2 separate regions of the Homo sapiens genome follow, and region 2 is linked to region 1. A link means that fine-mapping ties the variant in region 1 to the expression of a gene that starts in the linked region. Tissue or cell type: whole blood. Region 1 holds a variant in brackets; the other region holds the start of a gene. All regions are shown on one strand. Distances are from middle to middle.

Region 1 (8,109 bases):
TTGCTTAACGTAAAAAAATCAGAAGCCTCCAACAGTCAACAGTACCATTTTTAAAGTAAATTTTGTACACCTCCCCCACTCCCCAATCATGCCCTTTTTAATTACTGCTTTCGCTCTCATTAAAAGAATATAAGTTTAAAATTTCGAATGTGGATGTCAAGTTTTGCTGTTATCTTTAGTGTTGTTTTCTATATGAATGAGCCTAGCTTTCACACTATGGACACAGCCTGTTTAGACAAGAGCAGTGCTTATGTAATCATAGCTTCCCAAACCACAGCAACAGCACAAATTTGGCAGCTAGAAGGAAGGAAGTGAGGGTGGGGAAGGGAAAAGGAAAGAAAGGGAGTTTCTGTTTCAATCAAAGATATATTTGGCTCATATTTCCACCTCTTTTAACTGAGATTCCAACTCTACAGGAGGTCCTCTCCACTCATCCCTCCATGCCTGACCTGAGGAGCAGCTTGGCTTTTCCCTCGCTAAGGGAAAAACCTTTAGTACCTTCCTTCTCTACAAACATTAGAAACAGCTTAATCAAGTTGTCCTCAGGCAACAAGGATACTTCAGGCTTTCCAGGTATGACACAGCCTCTTCCCCTCCTATCTGCTAGCCAGCTAACAGCTCTTCCACTACTAGTGCTCTGCCAGTGTGCGTGACTGCCAAAGGCATCTCACTGGCCAAGTGGAAGGAAGCTTTCCTTCCAAGTCAAACATCCAGTCTTCAATGAATAAGCCCTATGTGCTGAAACATGCCTCTTTTCCCCAGTCACCTTACTCTTTAGGAAACTGTGGTAGGCAAGTAAAGACTCCCCAAAATACTTATATTCATATCCTACTCCCTGGAACCTATGAATATGTTGGGTTACATGGAAAAAGGGAACCAAGATGGAATTGAGGTTTCTAATAAGCTGACTTTAGAATAGAGAGATCATCCTCCATTATCTGAGTGGGCACAACATAATCACAAGGGTTCTTAAAAGTGGAAGAGAAAGACAGAAGAGAAGATCAAAGTGATACCATGTGAACAGAACTCAACCAGCCATTGCTGGCTTTGAAGATGGAGAAAGGGGACCATGAGGAAAGGAATGTGGGCAGCCTCTAAAAGTTGGAAAAAGCAAAGAAGAGGATTCTCCCCTAGAGCTTCCAGAAATGTACACAGCCCTGCTGATGCTTTGAGTTTAGCCCAGTAAGACCTGTATCAGACTTCCTACCTGCAGAACTGTAAGACTATAAATTTGTGTTGCTTTAGCTACTAAGTTTGTGGTAATTGTTATAGTAGCAATTAAAAACTAATACAAAAACCATTGGTTCAAGGCAAGTCCATACTGCTTGGGAAGCCACCTTCCATTTATCAAAGACTCTCCATTGAGGCCCAGGTGCACAGCTCATTCCATCTGGGCATGTGGTTCCAAGTCTCTCCATTGTACCCTGGAGATTGACACCAGACCACATCTGCACTGCCATTGCTTACATTTTTCTTTCATGTTGGTCTTCCCTAGAAATTTAAAGAATTACAGATCAAGAAAAGCTGGATGCAGTGTTGCACACCTGCAGTCCCAGCTACTTGGGACTTGGGAGGCTGAGGTGGGAGGATTGTTTGAGCCCGAGAATTTGAGTCCAGCCTAGGCAACATAGCAAGACCTGATCTCTAAAACATAATTAAAACAAAAACAAAAACAAACAAACAAAAAAAACAAGCTCTAAGTGGCATGAAGTTCATGGCTTTGCCTCCATAAGAACTTGTCTTAATATGAAAATCTCTTTGTTTAGCAAAAGCATAAATGAGTTTTCCAGAAAACCAGCCCTTTACTAGTGATATAGTGCAGGGTGAAGGTCTAGACCCCAGGGCCTTCTGCTCTGAGAAGATCAGACTGCTCAGGTCCAGACAATCCTGGCTATTTCTCACAAGCTATAGGAGGAGACAAGTTATTTAACACCTTACTTCTCTATTTTCCCATGTGTAAAATGGGAAAGGTAATAATATCTACTACATAGGGTAGTTGTAAGATGAAATAAGTTAATTCATATAAGAAGCTTAGAGCAGTACCTGGCACAGAGCAAGTCTCTTTGATCACCGTCATACTTTGTCATGTCTTTGGTTCTCCCATCATCATGATTTTGCATATCCTGATAGCATCTGTTCTTGCCAAAGGTCTGACTTTCCAACACACACTTTCCAAAAGGAAATAAAATGATGTACTTGTTTCCAGTGGCCATCCAAATGTAAAATCCATGTTTGGAAAACTTTGCAATGCTTCTTTTATACTTCTAAGTGCCCCTTGATTAAGGTTAAAGTAAGTTCCTCCAGTGGTTTTAAAGCATAGGTCACTCAAAATTAACTCCCATAAGCTATTTTACAAACTTCCTTTTGAGAAGTAATTCCTCAAAATGTAAAAGGCAGAATATTAGCTTCAAAAGTACGTGGAGTATTCATTAAAATGTAAACTATTGGGCTTTACTGAAGATTTAACGGAGGCCCACAAGTCTGAATATTAACAAACATATTACATATAGCATGTGATTGTTATGCATACAAAGGTTAAGAATCATTGCCTTAACATATCTTTAGTTTAAAGCCTACCCTAATTTTATTATACTAGATAGTTTGGCAGGTAAAAACAACTAAAAAAAAAGGCCAGGTTTAGCAGATTTGTACATCATTCTCTCATAAGATGTTTAAAGCAAATCAGCCATTTACTTTCTCAAGAAAGAGAAATAGGAAGGCCTGGCATAGTAAAAAAAAGTGATTCACTAAAAGAGAAGTGCATTTATTATCTTCTCATAGCACAGACACAACTGTATGTGTGTCTGTGTATATACATGTAAAATATATACACATATGGATATAGAACAAGTGAGTTTTATAATGCAGTCTTTGCAACACAATTATATGTGGTTTTCACAATGGACCTTCCATTATCAAAATCTAGATTCTAATATTGGAGTATTTGAAAAGAACCCACGTATGATAATAATATTGAAAATGCTACTTGTAACTGAATGCAATCCTTATTAACTTTCCTTTAACTTGTGATATAATTGACATACAATTATCAGCTCATAAAACGAAAAGAACATTGCCTCAGCATGTATATTGTGAAATAAAGGGATTACGTGTCAAAAATGTGCCAGGAATAGAAGGGTTGACATCATCTACAGCTTGGTGATGAGTTTTCCTTACAGATTTCCAAAAAAGGAAAAGCAAAACTATGTTTTGGGAGGCAACATCAAATATTTTTTAGTACTTTCTTCATCTTATTGGTTGTTTTATTTTCGTAGTGATAAATTAGTGTTCAACTCCAAATATTTAATGAAAATGTTTTATGGCACATATGTGTTCATGTGGCTATATTTTTCCCCCAAAGTGTGAATAGTAGAGTATCTACATCAGAATCTTCTTTTCTTTCTTTCAAACAAGTATCTCCAACCTTACCCTAAGCCTCTCATATTAGGGCCTAGAAACCCACATTTTTAGCAAGCTTGTCAGGTGATCCTTGCGCACATTTAATTTTGAGAACCACTTCTTTGAGAATATATAATGGAATTTAAATTTAATGATGTATTTTTTCTTATTTTTGAAGTATTTTTTAATTATCTTAATGTTTTATCTAAACTCAATAAAAATTTCTCTTTACCTAAACTCAATAAACAGAAATCTAGCAAACTCATTCATGGGATATCCCACTTCACAAAAAATCATGACTAAAACTTTATAAGAATCAATTAATATTTGCCAAATAAATGAATAAACTAATTAATCAACACATGAGGAAATAAAATTCAGACGATGAGCTATGAATTCTTTGACTTGACAGAAAAATAAATCATTAAGTCTACATCATCTCTATTAAACTTGTACTCATAGGCCTAAGCAACACAGATTTATCTTAAAACCTATATATCCCACTGATACCTGCCCTTCATTTTCTCTTACTTGTCAAGGTGGGTGGGGGAAGGGGGCGGGAAGCATATTATTTATTCTCCAAAAACAGAAATGAATGGAATGTAAAATAAGTCAACAAAGTTTGAAATTTCTTGTTGTTGTTGT[T/G]GTGGTGGTGGTGGTGGTGGTGGTGGTGGTGGTATTATCTTTGTTTTGATTTTATGGATTTTTCCTGACACAGGTAGTATCACTCAAAAATTAGTTACCATCTGCATGAGTTCTTCTTCATGGAGGCCACGGTCTGTGTATGCTCAGGGGTTTGTTTTTGGCCCCATAACTCAAGAGTCTAGTTCACTGGCAATGCAGGTAGGAATCATCTGACTTGCTACTCCTCCCACGATATGTGTTTGTTCAAGTCTGTTTGAGAAATGATGTTTGCTTCCACTCAATGCCAACAGCAGTGCTGCAAGCATCTCAGCCTCTATCCACCGCCAAACAGGTGAGCAGGACTATCTATAGCACTTATCATTCGCATTAAGATGCCTGAGTCTGTGAATTATCTCTTTTACATTATGAGTTTCCTATTTAAAACTATAAAGAAATATTTTTAAGTGGTAGAAAATTCATAACATGGAAATGTTTTTAAACATTGTGACATTACTTCATGTGCTTTTTACAATTACAAATACATTTTTAGTTATTATTCTCCTTTTTCACTTAACAATATATATAGCTATTTTTCATAGCTACATTTTAAAAATAACAGTATAATGTTCCTTCAAATAAGCAAAGCATAGTTTACCTAAATTTCCCCTATTTTTAGGCATTTATCTTGCTTCCAATGTTTTACTATTATAAATTATGTTTTGATAATTACCAATTATATTTTGATGAGTATTTGTGGTGTTTTCTATATTTGGGGTTATTATCTTCGCACAGATTCCCAGTTCTGGGATTAATAAGGCAAAAGCAGAATACTTTTGTTGATTTTTTTGGAAAAGCTTACACCAGTTTATAGAACCCTAACAGAGGTAATAACATTCACTTTTTTTTCATCTTCCTTGTCAAAATTGGAAATACTTTGTCGTTTTTGCTAATTAAGTGAAGTCCCTTTGCTGCTACAGTAATCTTCAGTACTTTGTTATTTTGTTCCCAAAGCACATTTATTGTAAAGCTTCTTGAAAGCTGGAACCAGGGAAGAACTGATGCACAAAACAATTGCAACCAGCCAGGGAAGAACGCCTGAGACTGGGACATAATGCAGAAAAAGGAAAAGGCCAACTGAGTGAAAACAGAATGGGTTCAGGGTAGGGAAGAGCTCTACAGGGGAGGTCACAGGGCTGGGACTGGAGAATAAGAATGAGAACTCATAATTGTTGAACGCCTACTGTGTGCCAGCAACTATGCTAGATAATTCACATTATATTATTTAATCCTTGCAATAGTCCTGTATGCTAGTATACTGGGTTAAATAGTATCCTCTTAAGATTACATGTCTATCCAGAACCTCAGAATGTGAACCTATTTGGAAATAGAGTCTTTGTGGATGTAATTAGTTAAGATGTGACCACATTAGATTAGAGTGGACCATAAATCCAATGACTAATGTCCTTATAAAAGGCCATGTGAAGACACACACAAAGAAGATCATGTAATAATAGAGTTAGAGAGTGGACTGGTGCAGCTATAAACCTAGGAACCTCAAGAACTGCTGGCAACTACCAGAAACTAGAAAGAGGCAGGAAAGGATCTTTCTCTAGAGCCTTCAAAAGGAGCAGGGTCCTGCTGACTGTTTGATTTTAGACTTCTAGCCCCCAGAACTATGAAAGAATACATTTCTGTCATTTTAAGCCACCCAGTTGGTGATAATGTGTGATGGCATCCTTAGGAAACTAATACAACTAAGTATTTAGTCATGGTCTTCAAATGAAAATACACTTCAGAGAGACTCAATAACCTCTAAGGATATGTAAGTGGCAGAACCAGGATTCAAACTAAAGCAGCCTGACTCCAACTGTGTTCTTTCTTTCACATTTTGCTGTTTCATAGGAACCTTTGTAACCATAAAGCATTTACTGCCAATGTTCACAGCAAGTCAATACACTGAGACACCAGGTAGAGCAGAGAAAGAGGTTTAATCATAGGGCTACCAAACAAGGAAAGAGGAGGAAACTTCAAACATGTCACCCCAGGGAGTTTAGGGCCAAGGATTTTAAAGGTTTTGGGTTGAACCAAAGGGTGGCAATCATTGATGAATCAGAATGCAGGGTGAAGTCAAGGGACAGAGAGATGAAGAAATTGCATTCTCCAGATGATGGAGACCACCAGGATCAGTTCCTCTGTGGGGGTCTTCACTGGTTAGCATTTACTGTTCTGCTGGAATTTGTCACCAGAAAAACATCTTAATTCTTAAACAAATGCCTTATAATTTTAACCTCAGAAATCCATCCTGTAGGAACAATGGGGATGCAAATGGTCAATATGTGACTTTTAGTTACAAGGAAGTGGACCAAAGTGCAGCCTGATTCATCTTTAATTTATTTTTAATTATACTTTACGTTCTAGGGTGCACGTGCACAACATGCAGGTTTGTTACATAGGTACACGTGTGCCAAGTTGGTTTGCTGCACCCATTAACTCGTCATTTACATTGTGCATTTCTCCTAATGCTATCCCTCCCCCAGCCCCTCATCCCCCAAATGGCCCCAGTGTGTGATGTTCACCGCTCTGTGTCCAGCTGTTCTCATTGTTCAATTCCCACCTATGAGTGAGAACAAGCGGTGTTTGGTTTTCTGTCTTGTGATAGTTTGCTGAGAATGATAGTTTCCAGCTTCATCTATGTCCCTGCAAAGAACATGAACTCATCCTTTTTTATGGCTGCATAGTATTCCATGGTGTATATGTGCCACATTTTCTTAATCCAGTCTACCATTGATGGACATTTGGGTTGGTTCCAACCACAATAAACATACGTGTGCATGTGTCTTTATAGTAGCATGATTTATAATCCTTTGGGTATATACCCAGTAATGGGATCACCGGGTCAATTTGGTATTTCTAGTTCTAGATCCTTGAGGAATCACCACACTGTCTTCCACAATGGTTGAACTAGTTTACACTCCCATCAACAGTGTAAGAACATTCCTATTTCTCCACATCCTCTCCAGCATCTGTTGTTTCCTGACTTTTTAATGATTGCCATTCTAACTGGTGTGAGATGGTATCTCACTGTGGTTTTGATTTACATTTCTCTGATGGCCAGTGATGATGAGCATTTTTTCATGTGTCTTTTGGCTGCATAAATGTCTTCTTTGGAGAAGTGTCTGTTCATATGCTTTGCCCACTTTTTGATGGGGTTGTTTGTTTTTTTCTTGTAAATTTGTTTAAGTTATTTGTAGATTCTGAATATTAGCCCTTTGTCAGATGGGTAGATTGCAGAAATTTACTCCCATTCTGTAGGTTTCCTGTTCACTCTGACGGTAGCTTCTTTTTCTGGCAGAAGCTCTTTAGTATAATTAGGTTACCATTTTGGCTTTTGTTGCCATTGCTTTTGGTGTTTTAGTCATGAAGTCCTTCCCATGCCTATGACCTGACTGGTATTACCTAGGTTTTCTTCTAGGGTTTTTATGGTTTTAGGTCTAACATTTAAGTCTTTAATCCATCTTGAATTAATTTTTGTGTAAGGTATAAAGAAGGGATCTAGTTTCAGCTCTCTACATATGCCTAGCAAGTTTCCCAGAACCATTTATTAAATAGAAAATCCTTTCCCCATTTCTTGTTTTTGTCAGGTTTGTCAAAGATCAGATTGTTGTAGATGCATGGTGTTATTTCTGAGGCCTCTGTTCTCTTCCATTGTCTATATATCTGCTTTGGTACCAGTACCATGCTGTTTTGGTTACTGTAGCCTTGTAGTATAGTTTGAAGTCAGGTAGTGTGAAGTCTCCAGCTTTGTTCTTTTTGCTTAGGATTGTCTTGGCAATCCAGGCTCTTTTTTGGTTCCATATGAACTTTAAAGTAGCTTTTTCCAATTCTGTGAAGAAAGTCATCAGTAGCTTGATGGGGACGGCATTGAATCTATAAATTACCTTGGGAGGTATGGCTATTTTCATGATACTGATTCTTCCTATCCATTAGCATGGAATGATCTTCCATTTGTTTGTGTCCTCCTTTATTTCTATGAGCAGTGGCTTGTAGTCCTCCTCAAAGAGGTCCTTCACATTCCTTGTAAGTTGG
Region 2 (8,109 bases), 260 kb after region 1:
AGGTCATATGCTCAAGCCGTGGCAGAGGATGGAAGGAGAAAATCCAGCCCATTTAGCTTCTCTCATGGCAGGCTAGGTCTTGCCTCCAAATAATATTATGCAATGGAGGATTCTTACTAATAGAAAAGGAGTTCAGCTGCTGGGCAGCCTTTCAAAACTGACAACACCTGGGCTGGGTGTGGTGGCTAACCCCTGTAATCCCATCGCTTTGTGAGGTGGAGGCTTGTGGATCGCCTGAGCCCAGGAGTTCGAGACCAGCCTGAGCAACATGGGGTAACTCCATCTCCACAAAAAAATACAAAAATTAGCCAGGCATAGTGGCACCTGCCTGTAGTCCCGGCTTACTTGGGAAGCTGAGGTTCACTGGACCCCAGGAGGTGGAGGTTGCAGTGAGCCAAGATCGCCCCACTGCACTCCAGTCTGGGGGACAGATTGGGACCCTGCCACAAAAAAAAAGAAAAAAAAAAACACTCCCAGCATTCGTTAACCAAACTTTGATTTGCTCATCTGTGAAATGGGCATCTGACTGCCTAGTACCTTCCTCATAGGTTTGCTGTGAGAATTTGACAGCGTATGCATGTTGCAGTTAGCATGATGTCTCACATAGGCTGAGCATTGGATAAATTTCAGCTATTCTTACTAATTCTTGTGACTCTCAGCAAGCCACATAGAATCTCTGTGCCCACATTCTCACTCACTGAAGGAAGATTACATCAACCATACTAAATTAGTCAGCATAGGCTAACTGCTGAAACAAGGGACCCCTCAAATCTCAGTGCATTATTTCTCATTCACTTCATTGTCCAGTGAGGGTTGCTGGGATTGGAATGAGGTCCATACAGGCACTCAGAGGCCAAGTCACCTTCTATCTAGTGGCTCTGCCATATACCCGGGACCTGTATTATGTTGGCAGAGGACGAACAATAGCACAAAGGACTGGGTTTTATAGGGACCCAGCCTGGAAGTGGCATATATCAATTCTACCTCTATTCCATTGGCCAGAATTCAGTCACATGAGCTGCACCTAACCACAAGAAGTCAGTTTGGGAAATAATACGCAGCTATGTGTTCCAGAGGAAATGGAAACAAGATTTGGTGCAACACAGCAGACTCTGTCACACCTACCTAACCTCCTCAGAGGGTTGCTAATAAAAGCGCATGTGAACGCCAAGTGTGAAACTGCTATGGAAAGTGATAAACTAACATGAGCTACAGGTGATGCTGCTGCTATTGATTAAGCCAGGGAGTTTCTGTGCATCCTCCACATTGCTAAAACATACAGCAATTTGGGTATGAGAAGAAACCGAAATATAATCAGAAGGTCCTTCCTCCTGTAGGGGAGACTCTTTAACTAGTAAGGCTTTATTTCTCCACTTGTATCTTCAAAAATGGGCCACTCTGGGAGCGGTGACTCACGCCTGTAATCCCAGCACTTTGGGAAGCCGAAGGGGGTGGATCACAAGGTCAGGAGTTCGAGACCAGCCTGGCCAATATGGTGAAACCCCATCTCTACTAAAAATACAAAATTAGCCAGGCAAGGTGGCACATGCCTGTAATCTCAGCTACTAGGGAGGCTGAGACAGGAGAATTGCTTGAATCCAGGAGGCGGAGGTTGCAGTGAGCCAAGTTGCACCACTGCACTCCAGCCTGGGCGACAGAGCGAGAATCTGTCTCAAAAAAAAAAAAAAAAAAGGCCACTGCAGGTAAATAATCTCCTTTCTTTGCCCATTGGTCCAATCCACATGGGCGTGTGGTGAAACTGGAGGGAAAAAAAGGGAGCGAGCAGAATAAAAGAGCAGAAAGCTATTACTTTGAGGAGTGTAATTGTCAGAGCAGGCTGTCAGAGCAGCCTGAAGCAATCACTCAGTAGGGGCCAGCCTCCACAGCAGTAATTTATCACCACATGAAGATGTTGGGGAGTTAATCACAGCACTGACATGTGTCAGCTCCAGGCATTGGGCTCAGCATAAACTTCATGCTTAGAAAATGAAAATAATTAAGAGGGCACACATTTGAAATGTACCACTAAAAAGGGAAGGCAGTCATCTTAGGGTCAGGTGAATGCCATGTTTGTAATCCACTAAACCAACTGGAAGAGCCTGTGGAGGGCAAATGTGTCCAAGGGTACTTTGCTATTTGTACCTGATAGATGCCTTTCACACTGTTTTGAGTCTCTGCATGGCCTGTCATGAAAGAGAAAAGCAAACACAATTTGCACAGGCTTTGCTACATGAATATTAGTGCTTCAGGAATGCTCTAAGATCCTGCCAGCTGCGGCTCAGGAAGGGGTCCAGGCCAGATCTGACTCATCCTGCTGCCTTCCTCCTGGAAATGATCCCCTTTCTCACCCCACTCCTGCTGGCTGAGCCCAGGTCCTGTCTGTCCCATATTTCCTTTGATCCAAGGAAAACTAAAAGTGGTTACTAGCTCCCAAGCGGCCTTTGTTTATAAATGGGTTCCCACCTTAATATGTTTACTCAAAAAACTCGTCAAATAATTAGCTATAACAGAGCAATCAAACTGATCAAACAGTTCTTGGAGTAGTTCAAACCTTCAGAGAGTTATTTAATGACAGTTTTAAATAACTGAACTGGGGTCTTCCAGCATAGAGAAGTAGGGATTGTGGCAGAAACTGCGAGGGAGAATTTTTAAAGTGCTTAGAATAAAAATCTTTTCATTGAAAAAAAATGACAAGAATTGCCCACATAATTATGGCAATTTTTCCTTTCCTTTTGCAATGCAAATTCCTGGCAGAGTGTAAGAGAAACTGAGCTCCACTGTCCCAGTTTTTCAAACTAAGAAAATAAAATAATTTGCTACCTAAACTTTCAACTTCTACTTTTGAAAGCTAAATTTAAGTTTTAAGAATCGTACAACAAAAGAGACTACAGATAAACCTCATTACAATTTTTTAGTATTGAGCATTAGGTTATTTATTTTCCTTCTTCCTAAAGCTACTGTAGAAAGAAAATTCAAAGGACTAGTAAGAAAAATAGCTCAATTGATAACAAGTCTGGTTTGTCAATGACATGCTAATACCTGTAACAGTTACTAATTATCTCAGCAGTGTGTCTCAGTTTTTATATTTAATATATTCTTCATCATTCTTAAATTAATAAATAGCAACCAATTGTTTTCTCTTTTACAAGCTTCATATGGAAAGAAAATTGAAAAAAAAAATTTGTATTAGCAGAAAGTGAATATAAGGGACTTCCCAACCTCCCCTCCATATATTTACTGACAAGCAACTGACATGAGTGATAGCAAAGCAATGTGGTTAGTGAGGAATGGCGCAGAGTGTGCAGTTTCCTTTTTTCTAATGTTGATTTGTTTTCTGTGCTGACACAATCCTAGAGGTTACTGTTCAAAGGAAGCATCGACAACAGAAGTGATTAGAGTACTGATTAAAAGAAGATTTTTAAGAAAATGACCAATCACCATCAATCTTAATATTGGCTAACAAATGTGTATTTTTCTTTCTCATATTATTAAGTAAATAGTATAAACAGAATAATTCTTTATTAGTATATCCATATAGTGCCTTTTGCAAGTAAATATGATTCTGGATATTTTATGACCTGTAATTACTTGAAATCGGAAAGCCCTTTTAGTTTCTCTTATTACCCATGTGTTGCTGAGACTAACTGAAGAACCAGTTAGGAGGTTTGTTCGTTCACGAAATAACATTTAAGAAATGGGTACCTGCTTATCACATAAAAGAATCCAGTTATTTACTTACCCTGTGAGGAGACATAATATGTTAGAATGCTTGTACACTGCAGATGGGAAGAGGTTTTTCCAGGAATTTAAATTGTGCAATAAGGCCACACAATCTTACTTAAAAAAAATGGTGAAGGGGTTTTAATTACACCATGAAGTTTTACAATTTTTTAGGTTTTTAGTTCTGGTTTTAGAAAACAGAGTAGAAGGATTACAGAGAAAAACTTCACCATTAGACAAGAAGTCAAAATGATTCTAAGGGCCGCGCAAACAGGCTTTTCCAAGAATTAATCATGAGGTGGTGCTTGGAGAATTCCTTTACTCCAGTGACTTTGAAACCCCCTTCTCACTCTCCACTAGTCTTTCAAAGGATTCATGGTGAATTGGGTCTAACGAGTATAACACGGCCGGCCGAAGGCATGAAGCTCACGCTACCCTTTCAGGGCGGAGAAGTTCCCAGGAGGAAGAATGGAGAAAAAGATCGCAGTTAGGCAGTCCTCCCAACCTCACCAAGGCTCCACCTCTCTCCAAAGCCGCAAGGCTCTGCCACCTGCGCCGGGAGAGGCTGCAATCACTGTCTCCTCCTCTTTCTTTCTCTTTTTTTTTTTTCTTTTTTGCCTGGGGTGCCCGACCAAGCGCAGCCCGCAGTCTGGGCACTGCCAACTGACTCCAACTCCTTTTATGGTGAGAGGATGGATTCTTCGTTATTTCCCCGCCCAATCTGGTACCCACCCACCCACCCACCTACCACGTCCGCTGGGCGCACCCAAGTCTAACCCCGGGGCGCACGCGCTAGCGCAGACACCGTATTTCTTCTCCTTTCTCGGCCAACCCTAGGTAGAATCCTAAAACAACTGCCCTCTCTTCCACGATCTAGATGTTGCGGCCCGCGGACAGGAGGTTCAAGAAATAGTACACTCCGAGCGGCAGGCAGCGAGGCGGAAACGGTCGCCGGTTTCAGTGGTGGCCCCACTGGAAGCCGAGTTCAGGAGCGGCTAAGCGGTCGCCGGGGAAAGCACCGGGGCTTCCCAGGGTCCCCTCCGAGTTCCCACTCCGCACCTCCGAGGGCGTGAAAACCACGGGAGCCGCCCCACCCCGCGCGCCCAGCCCCGCCCCAGCCCAGACACCGCCCCCCGCCAGTCTTCCCTGCGGCGCCCAGGGAGGACGCGCTCCGCCCCCTTCCAATCCGGCCAATGGGCGCCCGGGCAGCGCGCGGTTTGCCTCCGCCTCCGCCAGGGAAACTTGGAGGAGGAGAAAAGTTTGTACAGAGGGTGGAAAGGCGAGAGCGGAGCTCCAAGCCCGGCAGCCCGAGAGGAAGATGAACAGCCCCAGGCCAGAGCCTCTGGCAGAGTGGACCCCGAGCCGCCCCCAGGTAGCCAGGAGCGGCCTCAGCGGCAGCCGCAAACTCCAGTAGCCGCCCGTGCTGCCCGTGGCTGGGGCGGAGGGCAGCCAGAGCTGGGGACCAAGGCTCCGCGCCACCTGCGCGCACAGCCTCACACCTGAACGCTGTCCTCCCGCAGACGAGACCGGCGGGCACTGCAAAGCTGGGACTCGTCTTTGAAGGAAAAAAAATAGCGAGTAAGAAATCCAGCACCATTCTTCACTGACCCATCCCGCTGCACCTCTTGTTTCCCAAGTTTTTGAAAGCTGGCAACTCTGACCTCGGTGTCCAAAAATCGACAGCCACTGAGACCGGCTTTGAGAAGCCGAAGATTTGGCAGTTTCCAGACTGAGCAGGACAAGGTGAAAGCAGGTTGGAGGCGGGTCCAGGACATCTGAGGGCTGACCCTGGGGGCTCGTGAGGCTGCCACCGCTGCTGCCGCTACAGGTGAGATGGCGTTGGGCTGACGTTGGGGTCAACGGGTAGAGAACGCAGGGATGCGGCCCTCGCCGAAGAGAGCCAAGAAGGGAAGAGCGCGCTCTCCAAATTGCTTTTGTAACTTGTTTTCAGTGAGCATTTTATTGATTCAGAATCTATCGAGAATAGCACTAGCGAGCTACTTTTCCCTTGAGATGGGTCTTATTCATCTTGGCAATGGAGTGAGTTGGATTGTGGGGAGGAAGAGGAATGGGAAAATCAGTTTATAAATATTAATGTCAGCAAGAGTGTGCTGTTGGCAGGACGTATCGCGAGCCTGGAGATTTTGGTGGCCGCAGTTGGTAAGTGGCTACAATCCAGAAAGTAGGATCGAGTTGCTCCCCTTGTCTTATCAGTGTATCGTTTCTCGGGCGCGGGTCTAACACCTTACAAGTGGTAATTTCCGCTCACGGCAGCTTTGTCTCTCTTCTACCATCCCCAGACCCAGCCTTGCACTCCAAGGCTGCGCACCGCCAGCCACTATCATGTCCACTCCCGGGGTCAATTCGTCCGCCTCCTTGAGCCCCGACCGGCTGAACAGCCCAGTGACCATCCCGGCGGTGATGTTCATCTTCGGGGTGGTGGGCAACCTGGTGGCCATCGTGGTGCTGTGCAAGTCGCGCAAGGAGCAGAAGGAGACGACCTTCTACACGCTGGTATGTGGGCTGGCTGTCACCGACCTGTTGGGCACTTTGTTGGTGAGCCCGGTGACCATCGCCACGTACATGAAGGGCCAATGGCCCGGGGGCCAGCCGCTGTGCGAGTACAGCACCTTCATTCTGCTCTTCTTCAGCCTGTCCGGCCTCAGCATCATCTGCGCCATGAGTGTCGAGCGCTACCTGGCCATCAACCATGCCTATTTCTACAGCCACTACGTGGACAAGCGATTGGCGGGCCTCACGCTCTTTGCAGTCTATGCGTCCAACGTGCTCTTTTGCGCGCTGCCCAACATGGGTCTCGGTAGCTCGCGGCTGCAGTACCCAGACACCTGGTGCTTCATCGACTGGACCACCAACGTGACGGCGCACGCCGCCTACTCCTACATGTACGCGGGCTTCAGCTCCTTCCTCATTCTCGCCACCGTCCTCTGCAACGTGCTTGTGTGCGGCGCGCTGCTCCGCATGCACCGCCAGTTCATGCGCCGCACCTCGCTGGGCACCGAGCAGCACCACGCGGCCGCGGCCGCCTCGGTTGCCTCCCGGGGCCACCCCGCTGCCTCCCCAGCCTTGCCGCGCCTCAGCGACTTTCGGCGCCGCCGGAGCTTCCGCCGCATCGCGGGCGCCGAGATCCAGATGGTCATCTTACTCATTGCCACCTCCCTGGTGGTGCTCATCTGCTCCATCCCGCTCGTGGTGAGTGACCGGGGCTGGGGCCCTACTCGGCCTTTTTCTCGCATCCACCTCCCGCGTCCATTCCCCGCTCCCTGCTTTCCCTCTGAGTCCTTGGCAGTGAACGTGTCGCCTTTAGGTCGGGGCTGGGATTCCCACACTGTTTCTCAGAGCAGGCCCAACCCTCTTTGAAGTCCCAACCCTAACGAGATTTAGCAGGTGCTTTGCCCCTACATCCCCCAGTTTATGTTCCCGGAAGCCTGGGTTTCTTTCTCCACCGAGACAGCCCTTACCCCTTGCTGCCTGACACTGGCCGAGTCTTCCAAGAAAACCCCCCGCCCCCTCTGTTAGACGTGGAGGGGAGCCTGCTGTAGTGTGACTTAGCCCATTCCTCCGTACTGTGAACTGTGAACTGCAAAACCTGAAATGTCAGGGATGGTGATCTGTTCGTTGTAAACCATTTTTAAGGAAAGTGGGGTTTTTGGTGTTTTGATGTATGCAAGGTTTCTTGAATTTCTTCCCCCGTGGATTGCGTAGAATTTTAAAGCTAGAAGAGATATCAAGAGGTGTTTTAGTCTAACTCCCTCACTTCACTGAGGGAGTGAATGATACGCTTAAAATAATCCAGCCGAACCTACACAGTCAAGCTAGGCTCCCTGCTCTTTACCATGGTGTGCCCTGGGAGGGCAGCTTAAAGCACACAAATTCTAATTCATATACAGGGCAGGGTCCAGACTCAGTTTCTTTCATTCTGTCTAGACCAGGAAAGCAAAGTTTCTCAGGGTGACTAATTATGGACAGGCTGATATACATAGGGTATGGGATTTGAATTCTCGACAACTGTGCGAGGTACAGTACCATTTTAGAGAAACCGAGGTTTAGAGATGGCTGTCTTTGTTTCTTCAAGCCAAAGCTCTACAGCTTGTAATGGACCTTAGGCCGTCTGAGGCCAGACCCAGCTCATGTGTTATTACATCACGTCTCCCTCGTAGAACATTTCTCATTTTGGCGTTTGTAAAGCGTGGGTTGGAGTTTTGGTACACTTCATTTTTAGTTCATCTTTTAAGAATTGCCTTTGGATTAACTTTTAAAATATGATAAACAGAAAGGCTCAAACCCTACCTAGTTTTCTACTTTGCCTGTGGCTAAAATGGAATGCACCAGAAGCAGATGGGCAGAATAATGCAATACTTTATCTAGAGT

What was found. PIP is the estimated chance that this variant, and not a neighbour inherited with it, causes the effect.
Region 2: it holds the start of PTGER4, and the variant in region 1 is fine-mapped to the expression of PTGER4 in whole blood (INTERVAL, PIP above 0.99).

Annotation. Positions count from the first base shown.
Region 1 is chr5:40,410,824-40,418,932 of GRCh38, forward strand. No RefSeq gene overlaps it. Among named protein-coding and RNA genes, the nearest start is that of LINC00604, 170 kb to the left of the region's middle. The variant T/G (reference allele first, on the strand shown) is at 4,045.
Region 2 is chr5:40,674,931-40,683,039 of GRCh38, forward strand. It overlaps PTGER4 (prostaglandin E receptor 4), which reads left to right and starts at 4,985. Exons shown (of 3, transcript NM_000958.3): 1 at 4,985-5,548; 2 at 6,021-6,930. The coding sequence starts at 6,064. RefSeq lists a silencer at 4,648-4,867 and an enhancer at 6,003-6,530.